2 separate regions of the Homo sapiens genome follow, and region 2 is linked to region 1. The links come from fine-mapping of genetic effects on plasma protein levels. A gene starts in region 1. The other region holds a variant in brackets. All regions are shown on one strand. Distances are between the middles of the regions.

Region 1 (2,901 bases):
TGCTGAGCATGGGAGGTCGGGGTTCTCCCTGGTACCGTCGATACTCAGAGAGCTTCTGTAGCCTCCTTCCTGGAGGCGAGGGCTGGTTCCCGCCTCTCCACCTTGTGCGGGAGACTACTTTGAGAACACCCAACAACTTCGCAGCCTAAGAGGAATGCACAGCTCACCACTTCCGCTAGATGGCGCTACTTCCCCTACTCCGCCCGCGAGACACCCAATTTATAAAATAAATACAACCCAACACCTCCCAAAACCACACCACATAATAGCAGCTCACAGGCTCCCATTAGAAATCTCAATTTGGGAGAACTGATTCTACCTCCGAGCAAGTCTAATACAATTACATTAATAAGACGCAATCCCGAATTGCACCCGAGCGTCCCCCACACCCGCCCTCCCATTGAATACACCTGTCCCCCATGCCCGGGCTTGTACCCTGGGTTGAGCTGCGGCGCGAGCCGGCGCTGAATCGTCGCCGTGCCCTCCCGTCCACTTAGGAAAGCCGGGGCGGCTTGGCAATGGGCATCCTCGGCCCTCAATCCAAGGTCCGCACCTTCCCGTACGCCGGCGCGCCGAGGCAAAGGGCCGCCGGGACGCGAGCCCACGCGGTGCACTGCGCCGACATCCCCGAGGGCAGGAGATGGCCAGGCAGCTCCGCAGCCGGGCGTCGAGCGGGAGGCGGGGGCCCGGGCGGCGCGGGCCAATGGGGGTTCACGGCGGGACAGTCGGGTGGCCGGCTCCGTCCGGGGCTCCGCGAGCCGGGCTGAGGGAAGGAGCTCCCAGCCCGCACACGGTGTAAGGGACGTGTGCCGGGTCTGCCCAACCACGCGCGCTGGCGGCTGCCCGGGGGAGAGTATTTTAGGAAAAAAGAACAAACACCAAACCACAAAAACTTTCCTGCTGCCAACAGCTAAAGCGATAGAGGCGCAGCAAAGCTCCAAATGTGGGCAAGATGGGAGCAAGATGAGACGCGGGGCTAAGGAAGACCAAAGCAGCGCCGTGGCCCCGGCATGTGTCGGCGGCGCCTCGGAGATGTCAGAGCCGGGTCTGCCCGGCTCCCGACCCGCGCTTACCTTGGCGGCTGCATGAGCCCCTGCGGCCCGCGGGGGGTGGCGCTGGCGGGGCTGCGGGAGAAGAGGGGGTGTCGGGGCGCCGCTCGTCTGCCCCGGGGCAAGGTGGGAGGGGCTCCGCTGGCGCTGGTCCCCGCCGCCCCGGCCGGCTCAGCAGCGGCCCGGGGAGCGCCTCCTGCTCCCGGGCTGCATGCCTGCGAGCGCCTGGCGGAGCCGGCCCGGGAGCGAACGGCCAGTGCTTCCCCGGCCCAGCGGCTCGGGCGGCGCAGCCAGCGCTCGGGAGACAACTGCAGAGTGGGGCGGCCGGGACCAGCCCCCTCCCTCGCCCGGCCCCCGCCCGCCGCCGAGCGCGGCGTCGCGAGGTTCGTTTGCGCGCCGAGGGGAGGGGGCGGGCCGGGCGCCCGGGCCGCGGGCGGGGGGCGCGCGCGGGCGGGGCCGGCAGGGAGGGGCGGGGAGGAGCGGGGTGCGGGCTCGCGTTGCCCCGCCCCGCCGCGGCCCCACCCTCCCGCATCAGCACCGGCTGGGTGGGTGCGGAGTGCGCCAGCGGCCAAGTCAAGACTCCTTGAATGCTCAGGTTAGGGGGCGCGGGCGGCAAGTGCGGCGACTCCCCGGGGCGCCTCCAACTTTCCGAATCGCCCGCAGGGTTGCGGTGGAGCGCACGGTGTCCTTCAGTTAGGCGGTGGTCGAGGGGAGTTCCTCTGAGATTTCTGGAGAAGGCGGTTACATCCAAGACAAATGCTGTTGCGCTCTGCGGAGACGCACCTTTGTTCTATAGAGATTTTGTTGTTGTTTAAGAATCTTCCTGAAAAAACTAATACATATGTATTACATGCTAACACACGCATACATTCTTGCGTAGAATTGTACATAACTCAGGAGTGTCTAGAGTGAAAAGACCGTATCGCACTCCCTCCCACGGCCGCGGCTCTCCCACGGCCGCGGCTCCCCCGCGGTAACCTTCGGTCAGGGTGTGCTCTGCCGCGGTTCTTTCCAGTCTCTGCGCTTTTACATGCACACGCACAGATTGCGAGTGGAATCTCCTGGGCTTTTCAAAAGAATGTTTTCAACATTAAGCGCATGCACACAGTGGCTTGAACACGGCCACGTCGGGAGCAGTAAATCCCCAGAGGCTCCGGGAGCCCAGGGAAGGACCCTTGCTGTGAAACAGCAAAGAGCCACCCAATCGCCATGTGTGGATCTGAAACCCCAGCTGGAGCGTGAAGTCGGTCTGGTTACACAGCTCAGGCCCAAATTAGCACTGCACGGTTAGAGAGATTTGCCAGTACATTCTAGACAGGGTTATGACCTTCCCCTTCTTACAGAACAAACTGTCTTGAATTTTGATATGATGAGAACTCTGGATTTGCAAAATGAAAAGGTATCGTCCGCATTAAAACACGATCGTTATTTATGCGTGTGGTCTTCAGAGATGTGGTTTTAACTCAATATTCTCCGTTTTATTTGTCAAGTGTATTTGTATAATCTATAGCTGGGATATAAATAAAATTAAGTGGTTTAGCAGGAAGGGATTGGGGATGGGTTTCTAGAATTAGCTCTGACCTTCGGCAAGTCATCTAGCTCTGCTGGGCCTCAGTTTCCTCATCTATGAATAGTAGGGTGTGTGTGTGTGTGTGTGTGTGTGTGTGTGTGTGTGTGTGTGTGGTCTTCCTGCCCTGACATTCTGTGCCCTGACATTCAGTGAATAACCAATTTCTTCATCTTTCATAGCTCAGCTCCAACATCTTCCCCACCCTCTAGGGAGTCCTCACATCCGTGCCTTTCCTTCCTAACACTGAGCTCACTCGGTAATTAGGCGCTCATTAGAGTGACC
Region 2 (2,901 bases), 43 kb before region 1:
GGATGCCTCCCTGTGTGGCTGGGGTGTCCCCGCTGGCCTAGGGGGATCGAGTGTGCTCTCGTGTAAGAGTGTGTGCGTGCGTGTGGCGGGCACAGGGGGCCCCACGGATCGGCGAGCAGCAGTCGGCCGGGCCTTTCAGTGCATTGCGAGGGGGAAGGAGCTGACTCTGACGGTTCCCAGTGTGTCTCTGGTGGGGGTGGGGGGCTTCAGCCTGAGGGGATGTTTCACACATTCACACTGCAGGGGCGGGGCGAGGGGAGCTGCTCTCCCTCTCACACAGCTCTACTGTCAAACATCA[T/C]GGCACCAGTCACCACAACCTTGTCACGTGCACTAGAAGGGGAGGGGTCCGTGCCTGAGCCCTTGGCAGCAGGCGGTCCCTGGCGTTCTGCGGGGCCATGGTGGACACGCCAGGAGATCTGCACCCCGTGGGCGGTCCCAGCCCACACATGGGGAAGCCGAGAGGACGGAGCCCGCGCCTCCCTCCACATCTACGCGTCTAGCAGAACACAGGGAGCAGGGCCAGGAGCGGGACGAGGGCGCCCAGGAGGGGCCGGGGGGCCAGGGGCAGCCCCGCAGCCGCCCTGCCTGGCAGGTCCCGAGTCCTCTCATACAGGTGCAGTTTGTCTTTGTTGGAGTGGAGCATCTTGACATCCTCCAACGCGTAGTAGGCGGCCAGTGTGAAGTTCACGTCGCCCGTGGTGAGGAGGTCGAAGACGCAGGCCTGGTAGTACAGGTCCTCCACCGGCAGCTTCTCCTTGCACTTGGCCACGGCTGTCTCGTATGGGAAGGTCTCGGGGGCTGTGGGTGCAGGGCTGGCGGCTGCCAGCCTGCGGGCACCGGTGCCCTCAGCATTGGTGTGGAAGGCCTGGAAGTCGATCTGCTGGTTGAGGGGGCAGCCCCGCAGGCAGAGGTAGAGACCCTGGCTGTCCCAGTCCTCCACAGCATTGACCACTTCCTCTGGCATGCGGACGGCAAAGGTCAGGTAGCGGCCCACCTGGCGCACCACGATGGTGGTGCCGATGTACTTGGCCTGGATCTCCACGTGCTGGCCTGACACCTTCTCAGTGATCTTCAGGCTGTTGGCCCCGTGCTTGTCCCCACCGTTCTTAGAGCCATCCACGAAGGCGGCCGGGAGCTCGTCCATCTCAGCCTGGTACACCTTCTGGTCCACACACTCCTGGAAGTTCTTGAAGATGATGGTGAGCTGCCGGGGAAAGGGGCAGAGGAGAGTGGGTGAGGCACAGTGGGAGGAGGCACAGCCCCACACTTAAGATGCTCTAGACTGAGAGGAGGGCAGGAAGGATCCCCAGGGATGCCCCAGACACTCCCTTCTCCAGGTTGGACAGATCAGTTCCACCTGCGCAGCTGTGCACTTCACATTCTTTCAATGAAAACAACTTGCCCTTTTTACTTTAAAAAGTGACTTAGAAAAATGTTAGACCACTACCCTAAGTAGAAAACTAGCTCTTTTACTATATAGGGAAGTGAACCAGAAAAATAAAAGCATAGATAATTAAAAATAAAAGGTCAAAAGCCCAGTGTGGTAGGCTGAATAATGGCTCCCAAGAAGAACATGCCCTAATCCCTGTAACTTGGGAATGTTCCCTTAGATGGCAAAAGGGACCCTGCAGATATGATTAGGTTAAGAACACTGAGATGAAGAGATTATTCTGGATTACCTGGGTGGGCCCTAGATGGAATCACAAGTATCTTTATAAGAAGGAGGCAGAGGGAGATTTGACTAACTAGGACAGAGGAGAAGGTGATGTGCTCAACAAGGCAGAGATTCGAATGATGTGGCCACAAACCAAGGGATGCTGGCAACCACCAAAAGCTGGAAATGGCAATGAATGGATTCTCCCCTGGAGTCTCCAGGACCAGCCCTGCTGATACCTTGATTTTATCCCCACGAGACATATTCCCAACTTCCGGCCTCCACAATTATAAAACATTTCTGTTGGTTTGAACCACTCAGTTTATGCTAATTTGCTACAGTGGCGATAGGAAATGAATATGGTTTGCAAACATCATCTTGCATAATGACAGTGGTACTGGAGCACAATTCCTGACAAAGGACCCAAGCAAATGTCTGAACATTACAGCAGGTGGAATGGAGGGAAATGATGCTCAAAGAAAGAATGAATAGGGCAAAATCCATGCAAGCAGGCAGAGGCAAGCAGAAGCCACTGTCCCAAGGCTGCTGAAAGGGGTCCCCAAGCTGGGTCATGGAGGAGGGGAACAGGAAAGGAGCAAGGTGCTGGTCGGTAAAAGGGAGATGGAGGTTCCAGGCTGAACGGGCAGCCTTGGCCGGGGCTGGAGCAGGGAGGCTCCTTTCTGCTGGAGCCTGTGGCCAGGGGTGAGGGGCTGGACTGAGCTGCTGGAGCAGCAGCTGGCTGGGTGGCACTGTTCTCCTGAGAGCCAGACACAGAGGCATTGGCTGCATACAGCATGCTAAGCACTGCATGTATTACTTCCAGTCTCGTGTGACACTGCAAGGGTCGGTGACATTACTCTCAATTTTCCGGATGAGAAAATGTAGGCTCAGAGAGAGGCAGTAACTTGCCTAAGGTCACACAGCCAGCAAGAGGCAGAGCTGGGATTAGACTCTGCGTTTCCAGACTCTGGGCTCTCTTGGCCACAAGCCCATAGGGTGGGAGGCCTGAGAGGAGGAGGGCCGGTGGCCAGGGGAGCAGGTGAGTTTCCTCTGCCGTCCGCGTCCTGGGTGGCGTCTGGCTGTTCTTTCCTCCCTAACCCTAAGCAGGTTTCTGGGTTGGAAACAGAGAAACTGGGAGAGAAAAAACCACCCCTTCTTCCACTCCTTTCCCAGGTGTCAGCTGTTTTGCCATGGGAGCTCTGGGTGCCTTGGTCCCCCTGGACCAAGGGCAGCTGGAACCTGGACTC

Direction of the effects. Positions count from the first base shown, and alleles are read on the strand shown. Strength reflects both the effect of a copy and how common the allele is.
With allele T in place of C in region 2, the plasma level of the protein whose gene starts at base 1,366 in region 1 is lower (moderate association).

What was found. PIP is the posterior inclusion probability: the model's chance that the variant is causal. The UK Biobank Pharma Proteomics Project read protein levels with antibody pairs (Olink). The fine-mapping took linkage between variants from a reference panel, not from the people measured, so its PIPs are less certain.
Region 2: its variant is fine-mapped to the plasma level of the RGMA protein (UK Biobank, PIP above 0.99).

The regions. Positions count from the first base shown.
Region 1 is chr15:93,087,846-93,090,746 of GRCh38, forward strand. It overlaps RGMA (repulsive guidance molecule BMP co-receptor a), which reads right to left and starts at 1,366. Exons shown (of 4, transcript NM_020211.3): 1 at 1,074-1,366. The coding sequence starts at 1,087. LOC101927025 (a long non-coding RNA gene) reads left to right here and starts at 1,369. Exons shown (of 5, transcript XR_007064769.1): 1 at 1,369-1,432.
Region 2 is chr15:93,044,502-93,047,402 of GRCh38, forward strand. It overlaps RGMA (repulsive guidance molecule BMP co-receptor a), which reads right to left. Exons shown (of 4, transcript NM_020211.3): 4 at 1-1,204. The coding sequence ends at 497. Among named protein-coding and RNA genes, the nearest start is that of RGMA, 43 kb to the right of the region's middle. The variant T/C (reference allele first, on the strand shown) is at 299.